Linked DNA regions of Homo sapiens: region 1 is linked to region 2. The links come from fine-mapping of genetic effects on gene expression. Tissue or cell type: prefrontal cortex. Region 2 holds a variant in brackets; the other region holds the start of a gene. All regions are shown on one strand. Distances are from middle to middle.

The links. PIP is the estimated chance that this variant, and not a neighbour inherited with it, causes the effect.
Region 1: it holds the start of BMPER, and the variant in region 2 is fine-mapped to the expression of BMPER in prefrontal cortex (CommonMind, PIP 0.95).

What each region holds. Positions count from the first base shown.
Region 1 is chr7:33,902,440-33,907,816 of GRCh38, forward strand. BMPER (BMP binding endothelial regulator) reads left to right here and starts at 3,100. Exons shown (of 15, transcript NM_001365308.1): 1 at 3,100-3,307; 2 at 4,379-4,464. The coding sequence starts at 3,175.
Region 2 is chr7:34,036,715-34,042,091 of GRCh38, forward strand. The region is part of intron 6 of BMPER (BMP binding endothelial regulator); the gene reads left to right. Among named protein-coding and RNA genes, the nearest start is that of BMPER, 130 kb to the left of the region's middle. The variant G/A (reference allele first, on the strand shown) is at 2,174.

The DNA of each region.
Region 1 (5,377 bases), 130 kb before region 2:
ATTTCTCTAGAAGCATCTTTCAGACTTGAATCCACGTGACTAAGTTGTATGTTCAGTTGAATTTTTCAGTGAGAATTTAGCATCGTAGTTTTGAGAGGAGATGAAGAAAGTTGCTCTTACTGCAGGCCTGGCCCCTTTTAATCTGATTAGGTTTCACAGTTTATTTTCCAGAGAAAGAGATGAGACAGAGTTTTGTCTAATTGAGACTGGGACAGGCCCAGAGTTAAACATTGGTCTTTGGGCCCCATCACCTCTTTCCCCTTGAAAAATGTCATAAGCAGACCCAAATACACATTTTTTCCCCTCATTTTGATTTCAGCCAAAGCCATTTTGGGATTTGGATGGTACCACTATTTATTTAGTTAAACTGTGAAGGCAGATCTGTGTGCTTTTCAGTGCAGGCATTCTTTTTTCTTTTTGACCCTGGAATATCTCCGTTTTGTGTAGACAGAGACCAGTTGTCAGCTGATAGACTATCACTTGAGGGGTGATGGCAGCAGTAGATGCATGGGAAAACATCTTGATAAGGCCTTGGAGAAAAGGCTGCTCTTTCGGAAGCAGGGCCCATTTGCCAAGAAGGCAGCAAGGGAAATCGCTGGTGGCAGAGGCTTATAACAAACAGGAAGAAGAGACAGGTTTGCCAAAGGCTTCTGTGCATTTTTCCCCTTCGCAAACTTTCAGACAGATGAAAATGTTTTTAAGGTGGTTTTTGGGTTTGCACCTACAGGGAGAGTTCCAGTGCATTCCAAAGCACCATGCTGCACATTATGGAAATGCCACACACAGCTAGATTCTATCATAAAGAAATTTGTCATGCAAATTCTGAGGATGTTTGGCTGGTGTCAGGGAGGGAAGGCATATCAAAGTAACTCAGGCACACCCTTCAAATGTCTTGCAATTTCATAGCATGCATTTATCCAAATTTATGGCTAAGGCAACAAAAGGTCTCCCAGCTTCCTTATTCTTCAGCTTTCCATAATTAAATTATGATAAACAACTTTATCTAAAAGCCTCATCCAGGGACAATCTTTTTAGATAGAGGAGATAGTGGTTCCAACTGATTGTACTTATCTGCAGCAATAAAGGTTTCTATTTATTTAATTTTTAATTTTAATTTTATTTATTTTTTAATGAGTCCCTGGGAAGTAAGGCTGGATTTAGAGATTTTTCTCTTTTTGCATATTATCTTTATGATTAGTAAATACATAAACACACTGGTTTCCGAGAAGCTGCCTGGCCATGGCTTTATTTGGGTGGGGGGAGGGAGGGAAGGAATCACACATCAGCCTTCTCTTTCAATTTAAATTTTACGGTAAGAATCTATTTTGGGAGGGAAATGGAGCATGCTAAGCTAATGACAGTTTTCCCTTCTCTTATTTTTCCCACGTCACAGCAACGTGCTCGCATCAGCTCCTCGGTGTGTCGCGATGTTGGCAATGTTGCACTAATTAAGTGAAGTCTCCAAATCACTCGAAAAAACGAATAAACAGTCAACGAGGCAGGGAAGGGTTAAGGTGAAGCTAGATTAAACCTGTCAGCAAACAGACTCATTTATTTTCAAAGCTGTAGTTTCCACAATGGAAACAACCCACTTTGCCTGGAGACCCTTAGGTCCGTTCCGTGGGGACCCGGTTTCAACTCTTGGACAGAGGAAGTCGGTAGTCCACCGTGAGCTCAAGGACAGCTAGCTGATCGTCAGGTCCCAACACTTGCCAAGCGTCCCTCACTCCCACCTCGCGCCTTCGTACTTTGGTTACAAAAATCATCTCTCTGCGATTGCACCCCTTTTGAGTAGAGGGTGCCACTGCGTGGGGAGGAGGCGGCGATTCAGCAGGGGGATCACAGGAGCTGACTCCCCGACACCCAGTGCTGCAGAGGCGAGAGGGCGCAGCCGGGCTGAGAGAGCGACGGAGCTCCGAGCTGCAGAGGCCGCCGCGCGGCGGCCCCCGCCAGAGATGAGCGGTGGGGCGGGGGTTCCTCCCTCTTTTCGGGTGAATGAATGATTAGTCAAACACCACCTCCCCGCCCCGGTCCGCCCGAGATTGGAAGGGAGGAGTCTCGGAGCGACTGTTCATTTTTTAAGGACGAAAGGCGTTTGCCTCGGTACGTTTTTAAATCGACCTTGTGTGTGTTTCAACTTCGGTCATCCCTAGTGTCAGGACGCGCAGACAGCTAAGCACAGAACACATCTCTAAGGCCACTTGCCCCTCTGTCCGCTCAGCCCCCTGAGTTCGCTGTCGCGCCCCCGCCAGAGGGAAGCAAAGCAGGGCATGAAAAGTTGCGGGGGCCCTACTGCCCCGGGTGTGTCGCTCCTTCCCAAAGGTGGGGCACCCGGGAGCGAGCAGGGTGGTGGGGCGCCCCTGCGTCCCGTTTGCTGCTCCCTCGCTGGATTGGGGCACCCGGGCCTGAGCGCTAGTGCTGCGGCATCCCCGGGGCTCCCCCAAGAAAGGGAGGAGGAGCCGCGCTCGCCCGGACAGTGGAGACGCGCCTTCTCGGCTCTGGTCCGCGCCCTGGGGCCCTGGCCTCCCTGGAGGGGCTGGGGAACTGGAAGCTGGGCCGAGAGAGTTCCCGCTGCAGCTATCGCGCAGTCCCTCCTGCGCCCGGGCGCCCCCAGCGGGTTCCGGGAGGCGCCCGGTGAGCCCACGTCTGTTGCGGCGGAGCGAGCGCGCTCCGGGAGGGCCGAGAGCCGGCGGGGCTGGCAGGAGGTGAGGAGTGCGGGAGTGGAGGACGCTGCGGCAGCGACAGCGACAGCCCCCGAAACAGTAGCGGCAGCCCGGGCGGCGGCTGAGCGGCAGTGCGCAGTCGGCAGCGCCGCAGCTCCTCTCAGTCTATCTCCGGCTGCCGCAACACCCCTTCCTCCTGGCCCCCTCTCCGGCGCTGAGGGGCTGACTGCTAAGCCACTGCAAGCAACTCCCTCAGGAAAAAAAAAAAAAAAGCCGCATCGGAGGAGCCTGGCCGCAGGACCCCTCCTCCCCGGGCGCCCCCACACCTTGGTCTCTCCCCCCGCCCTCCCTCACACCCCCCCGCCCCCCAGCTCTCGGGCGCCCGCCTCCCTCCTTCGCGGACGGTCTCCCGACACGCCGGCTGAGAGCCCTTTTCGACTGTGAGCTGCGGCAGCTGAGCAGAGGCGGCGGCGCGGGACCTGCAGTCGCCAGGGATTCCCTCCAGGTGACGATGCTCTGGTTCTCCGGCGTCGGGGCTCTGGCTGAGCGTTACTGCCGCCGCTCGCCTGGGATTACGTGCTGCGTCTTGCTGCTACTCAATTGCTCGGGGGTCCCCATGTCTCTGGCTTCCTCCTTCTTGACAGGTAGGGGAGGGGGCGGGAGGGACCGGCCCTCCGGGACGCCGGTTTGGTACCTGGGAAAGGTGGCGCTGGCTTGCCCCGGGGATGGGAGGGTGGGGAGCGCGCACCTTGGCGCTTGCCCTGCGCTGGTCGATGGGGATGAAGCGAAGCCCCGGGAGGGCTGGGAAGGCTGGTGAAGAGGTTGCGGGCTGAGAGGCTGTTGCCTTCAATGTAGTAATAATAGACATTCTTCTATTTGAATTTGAGAAATTATTTTATTTATTTTTAATGCTTTCCTCAACTTTTATTTTAATCTTTCCCTCTGTAGAACTCAGGAAAAAAATTTGTGCAGTTTTCCGCACATCTTCCTTTCTCATCTTTGGGGTTGCAATACATCCACTGTGCTAGGAGTGCTTTTTAAAGCACTGGCTCTCAAGACCTTGAATTTAAAGAAACTATCATTTAAAAAGGGCACTAATAGCCGGATATAATAATTATATGTTTTCAGGCAGGTGAAGACCTCAGCTGCTATTCTGAAGGACATACTTTACTGACACCTGGTGCAGAAAAGAAAATATGGAGTCAATTTCTAAGAGAAGGGAAAAGGGGATTGCGTTTCAAAAAGTGATTTAAACCTAAGACAATGCGAGACAGATTCATAGAAAGGCCTGTTTATTGACTCAGTTCTGAGTTTTGGTCAATTTAAAATCTGCCCCAATTTGAGGGTTTTTTTAAATTTTATTTTTTATTTTTTTCTTTGCGTATGGGGCTGTGTGCTTAGTTGAAATATCTTCATAAAGGAGGAGTGTTATTAAAAATCCAGTGAAATACTTGGAATTGTGCTTAGACCATCTGAGAACAGATAATTTATCCCTATATCATAGTCTTTTCTTTTTTGAACCTGTTTAAATAAAATTATTGAAAATGGAGTTGGGGGCAGAGGTTTTGCTTTGGTGAATTTAATAATTTAAACCACATTAAGAATTCTGAAGTTTGGGTAGAGGTTTCAAAAAGGATTAGTGTAAAAATTTTAAATGTTGAAATCATGCTGCTAAGCTAACTTTAAATGAAACATTTTTCCCCCCTGAATTTCAGGTTCTGTTGCAAAATGTGAAAATGAAGGTGAAGTCCTCCAGATTCCATTTATCACAGACAACCCTTGCATAATGTGTGTCTGCTTGGTAAGTGTGGAGATCAGGTAATATGAACTCAACTGCTCTCTCTGATAAGGTGAATCCATTAAATGTGATAATATAACCAGATCTTACAAATTGTCTTTATCATTACAAAATTGCACATAACTGTACATAGTTTGTGAGTTGAATCCAGTTAATTTCTGAGTTTTATGGACTTTGGCAATTTCCATTTCATCCAGCTGGAAATTCTTATCTTTGACATCATCCTTATAGACGTAAATTTCAGATAGGCTTTGTATGACGTCTCGGTGAAATGACAGTTTGTAATGTCTGTTTCCAGTAATGATTACTACAACCAAATTCTTGGGACAACAAAACTTTCTGCGTTGGTTCTGTCATTTAAGCTCAGTGGGAAAATGATGAGATAAGATTTAAGTATGAAGGTCAGGAATAAGGTATGCGACAAAGGGAAAGAGAGGTGACAGCCACAAAAAACAAACATAAGGACAAGATGTAATTCTGGATTTCTTTCTCGGGTTTCTTTGCCTGTTATACCCTAAACCCTCAAATACTGTCTTTATTTCTGATTTGGAAGCATGAGTCGGAAAGGACAATTCCATCCTTAATAGAGAATGACACTTGGCTGTCAGCTGCTTAGTTAACACTATCAGTGGTTAGAAGACTCAAAAAATAATTTGTTTCCATTTATTTTAGTTTAGTAGTTAATGATAAGTCTAATAAGTAACCACTTGGGGGAGATTAAGTAATGTGAATAAGAATTTCTGAGATGAAATATAGACCTACAAGGTAAACATTTTTGCTTAGGAGTGTTTTACATGCCAATCACTTTTGGCAAAATTTGGTTAGAAACTACACATTATAAAACCTTGTTGGAAATACATTAAGGCAGTCAAATGCAAAGCCCCAGAATGATAGAGGACTACTTGTTGCTAGATCA
Region 2 (5,377 bases):
TCATTCTAAAATAGACAAAGAGGAAAGTAAAATAGCTGTGGACACCCAGAACCAGTTGGAATTTGCCTCAAACAATATCGCAGTCTTTCATCAGTGATTTGTGTGTCTGCCTGAGTGGAAAGCCTGAGTTGGTGGAAGGAGAAGAATTTCTTTCTTTTTCAAAGAAAAAACGTAAAAGAAAACAAACACATGAACAAACAAACAAGGAAAACTGCCATTCAGCTAAGTGGCAGGAAGAGCTAAGATCAAGGACTCCAAGGGGAAGATGAGGCCAATTTTACCTTTAAAAATGAGACTTAAGCAAACACAATAACCAAATCCCCTTTTCAAATGGAGTTTAGTGGCTGGGCAGTGGGGCTCACACCTGTAATTGTGCTTTGGGAGGCTGAGGCACGAAGATTGCTTGAGGCTGAGAGTTTGAGGTCACAGTGAACTATTATTGCGCCACTGCACTCTAGCCTGGGTGAGAGAGACAAGTTGTCTCTTAAAAACAAACAAACAAAAAAGGGATTAGTGGAACTATGGTAAAGACATTTCCATCATGTATTTATTTAATAATCTAATATTTGCTTTATGAAATTATGATCTTTGGCTCTGCCGCTGTATGCAGTTGAAGTTTAACACTGTCTCTATAGCCAGGCTGGACCTGCTCACTTGTGCAGCTGTAGAAAGAAGGCATCTAGCTGTGCTATTCACAGGCTGAGGCCTCACAGTGCCTGCTCTGTAACCCCTCCACCGAGACCGGTTGAGGCATTTTTCTGTAAGAATCTTGAAATATAGCAAACATGGTTAAACTCTTTGGGAGTCATCTAGCTGACCATGAGAGGACATTGATGTCCCTGCAGGGCTCTGTAGCCTGGGCCAGAGGGTGCCTGGCCAAGTCCCACAGCTTAGTGGGAACTTCAACTTAAGGGGTTGGTGCTGGCCAGCAAGACTGGCATAGCGCCCCTGAAAAGACCTGTTGGCAACAAAGACAGTTTTCTTACTTCATTAACACCGAAAGTTGCTCCTGAAGCTGTCCATCAGCGCTTATAATTTGCCTATGACAAAAGGAGAGGGCGAATAAGACGAAAACATTGGATTGTCTGGTTTGAATTTCACCTTCTAACTAGACATGGGTGCAGGAAGAAGAAAAAATAAGTGGATGTGAACTTACTCAGATCGCAAGCCATAAGACCAGGATTTAAATCGAGCTTCTTGGCTATCTTTTCCTTAGGAAAGCATTAGAAACACTAGCTTTTTTGGTGAGGTGTGTTGTAGTCACATTAGGCCTGAAATATGACATTTGGGACTACACAGAGAAATTAAATGTCATTTATTTAATAATAATTAGGGTAGGCAGAATAATGCATCCCCTGGCCCCAAGATGTCCATGTCCTAATCTCCAAAACCTGTGAAGGTGACCTTACATGGCACAAGAGACTTTGCAGATAGGATTAAGTTAAGGACCTTGCGATGGAGAGGTGACCCTGGATTCTTTGGGTGGGCTGCCCACTTACAATAGTACTTATAAAAGGGAAGCAGGAGGGTCAGAGTCGGAGGAGATGTGATGATGAGCAGAGAGCACAGTCAGAGGGAGGTCTGAAGGTGCTGCACTGATAGCTTTGAAGATGGAGGAGGGGGCCATCAGCCATGGAAGGCAGGCTGCCTCTGGAAGCTGGAGAAGGCAAGGAAACAGATTCTTCTCTAGAGCCTCCAGAAGGAATGCAGCCTGCTGATACCTGGATTTTAGCCCCATGAAACTGATTCCAGACTTCTGACTGTAAGAAAATAAGTGTGTGTTGTTTTAAGACACTCCATTTGTAACTTATCATAGCAGCAATAGAAAACTTAATAAAATAATATAAACAATAATAACAATAATGCAGTTATACTTAGAAACATTAATTGGCATGCAAAATAAAAGGAATTTGTTTCAGGCTTGGTTCTCAAGACAGGGCATTAGTTCATAGTTCTCTTAATAGGTCGTGAAGTACAAAAGGGTTTTTGTTTTTGTCAGCCCCATAGACCCTTTCTCAGGGGTCTTTGTTTGCTATTTTTATGGGATAAAATCAGTGTCTTCATCGAGCTTTGCTGACATGTTCTTGAATATCTATGTATAGAATCAGAGTTGAGTTTTATTTCATCACTTGGATACCAAAACTCATATGTAGCCATATGTCCAGGTTTTGGG[G/A]GTCAGAAAGCTTCCAAGATCCTCACAAATTTTTATGATAAAGCCTGCATTGGTTTCAGCACAGACTCCTTGGAGAAGCACAGTTCTACCCTGTCAGCTCTGATCACAGCTCTGTCTCCACCCGCACTGTTTCTCGCTGACCTCTTCCTTCACAAGCCTGAAGAAAAGTGGCTTCCAGCCACCAGGGAAGTGAATTGAGGCCTGTTCTTCTCTCACTGAGAACTGTTCCACTTGAAAAATGGGCTTCATCCTTCAGAACACTTGTCTTGAGCACATGTTAGAAGCTATGATGTGTGCTAGCTGCTGGGGGAATGAATAAGATAAATAAGCTTTAAGTCTTACTTACTGGAAGCTCATGCCAGTGAAGCATTTGGCAAAGCACAGTGCCTTGGACAGAGGCATTTAATTCATCCAGGAAAGTTATTAAAAATGCGCATTCCTGGACTGTGGTTTGAGGAATCATTGGCCTAGTACTCTAGTTCTCAACTGGAGGTGATTTTGTTTCCCAGGGGACATTTGGCAATGTCTGGAGACATGCTTCATTGTCACAATCAGAGAATGAAGGGTGCCACTGCCATCTAGCAGGTAGAGGCCAGGGATGCTGCTGTACATCCTACAGTGCATAGAACAGCCTCCAAAGCAAATAATCACCTGACCCCAAATGTCAGGAGTGTGAAGGTTGAGGAACTCTAATCTAGTGGGTAAGACACACAAATACACACACACACACACACACACACACACACACACACACACTTATACCACTGTGGTGTATACATGCCCAGATGTATCCTACTATAGTGTGTGTATATGTGTATGTATATGTATATGTATATATGTGTGTATATCTATATAAACACCTCTGTTAATGTTTTTAAAGTATTATATGCTCTGGGGCAGTAAGTGCACTGCCCTCTAGCTCTGTCTGAGAAATCTAGGGTGGGCTGAAAGCTGAGTTCCCACACTTGGCAGCTCATCAGGAACACATCTTGTATCAGTCAAGGTCTCATCAGGAGGCATAAACCATACCAGTTATTTGAAAATAGAGGATTAAATATAAAGAACTATTAACTAGGTAACTGAATGGCAAAAAGAGAATTCTAAGTTATTGTGACAATGCCACCTACTAGATGATACCACCACCTCTAGGGTCGGGGAACAATGGGATGAGAGTAGAATTATTAAAACTTAGAGGAGGGGCTATGTGGAGCTGAAATTCAGACTTCTGAGGAGGGAGTGCCAGCTGGCTGGAGTAGAATGTTGAGATGAAGCTGGTTTTACTTGCATGAAATGTTGGAAAATCTCTAAACTGGGTTCAGTTGCTGATGTGGGAAGGAAGTGCTGCTGCCTGGTGAAGAAGCATTAATGGGGACAGGAGGCCAAGGGAAACAAACAGAAGGAACCAGTCCCTTATCTGGTGCCCCTATAGGCAGAGCCTATCTTGGACTAAGCTAGCAAAGCAGAAATGTGGCATGCAGAGCCTCAGCTTCAACACCAGAAAGCAAAGTGCGAATTAGGTTGTGTGGGTTTGGAGTCCAGAGACAATAGCTTAGTGACGACTGAGACATAGTTGCAGCTTTAATAAAATACAGTTGCCTGGGTTCTGCATTAGAATCTTGGACATGAAGCTGTCAATAATTTTTTTTTTTTACAAGAGTCCTGTGGGTGATTCTGACCCACTGCCTAGATTGAGCACCCTGAATAGAATGAGGAGCCACTAAAAGTTTTAAAGCATGGAAATGGCCCATTATTATTTGTAGATTCAAAAGCATGTTCTTTCAACTGAGTGGAAGAGGTGAGTAAAGGTCCTGTGTTAGTGGATTATAAATTAGCTATGGGGATGGTGAACACTTTATCTTCTTCCTAAGAGCAGAAAGAGAGAAGTCCCAAACTTTCAGATTTCCATATTAGGGGCATCTTGTTTAAAATGTAAAAGAGGGAGAGAAGGAAAGAAGGGAGGTGGGAGGAGAAGACAACATGAAAGGAAAAAGCCCTGGAGGCAAAAGGTGATGCATAATTTGGATTTTATCTAAGTAAGTAACAAAAATGTGGGCAATATATTTTATCTAAGCCATTTTGATAAAAAGCAGACATAAAGCTACAACCAGCATCTACCAGGGAAGACACAAGAGACGTCTAGAAGGAGAGAAAGTTCTGGCCATCGCTTTGATTATACTTCACACTCCAGCTGAGAAATTGTGCTGTGGTCTTTGGAAGGAAAGGCCCTATTAGATGGAAATAACTCAGCTTGGATGTTAGAACTAAATTTACATTTCAACCCTGCCACTTACTTGTTGGGTGGCAGATTTTCTGAGCAATTTCTTTAAGGCTTAGAGGCTCATTCTCTGCTGTAGGGGTGACAAAAGCATGCCCACAGGGTCTTCTGGAGACTTACGTAAAATGATAAAAGTACCTAAGCACAGTACCTGGCACAACCCAGGCTTGTCACTCACTACCTATTGGAGGTGTCCTGTCTCCCCTTGTCTACTCTGCTACTGTCCCCTCAGTCTGCCACCTCATCTGCTGTCACTCTTCTGCTTTGATTTGTAGATTAGACTATTCTTTGCAGACCAAAAACAGGGAAAACCAAATCTGAAAATCTTTACTCCAGGAAGTTAAGTGTCATGCTCTGTAAACTTAGCAAGATACAGTTCTAGGCCAAAGTAAGGCATGGCTAAGGACATTCATGGTTTTTGGTGAAGCTTTTTGACCCAATTTGTAATTCAGACTGGTTGCTTTGCTCACATATCAACTTTTCATTACAGGCTGATGTGATGTAAGATTATGGACCACACTTAAATCCTTTGCACTAAAGACGTATTTCTCCCCTACACTGCCCCCTCCAACTTCTCTCTCTTTTCTTCCCACTTCCATCTCAGAAGCAACTCTAGAGAAAAAAATAGAGAACTCTATTTTTTTCCCCAAAGAATTTGGCATAGGAAAAATTGCTCTAGAATGTGGAAGAGTGTAGCTGAGTCATTGTAACGGGTTAGCACTGCACTACTCTGCTCCCAGCCTCTTGTTAGGGAGCCAAGCTCTGCTCCTGTTTGGGAGATGAGTGCCACATCACACGCTACAAGGTGGTTTTCAGCCCCCAAGTCTCACTGGGCACTCAGCTGTTGGAGAAGCATCGTGTATGCACATGGCTGTTGTTTTATCGTCTTGAACCCATCACTATATTCAGGAAGATAGGTTTTTATTATG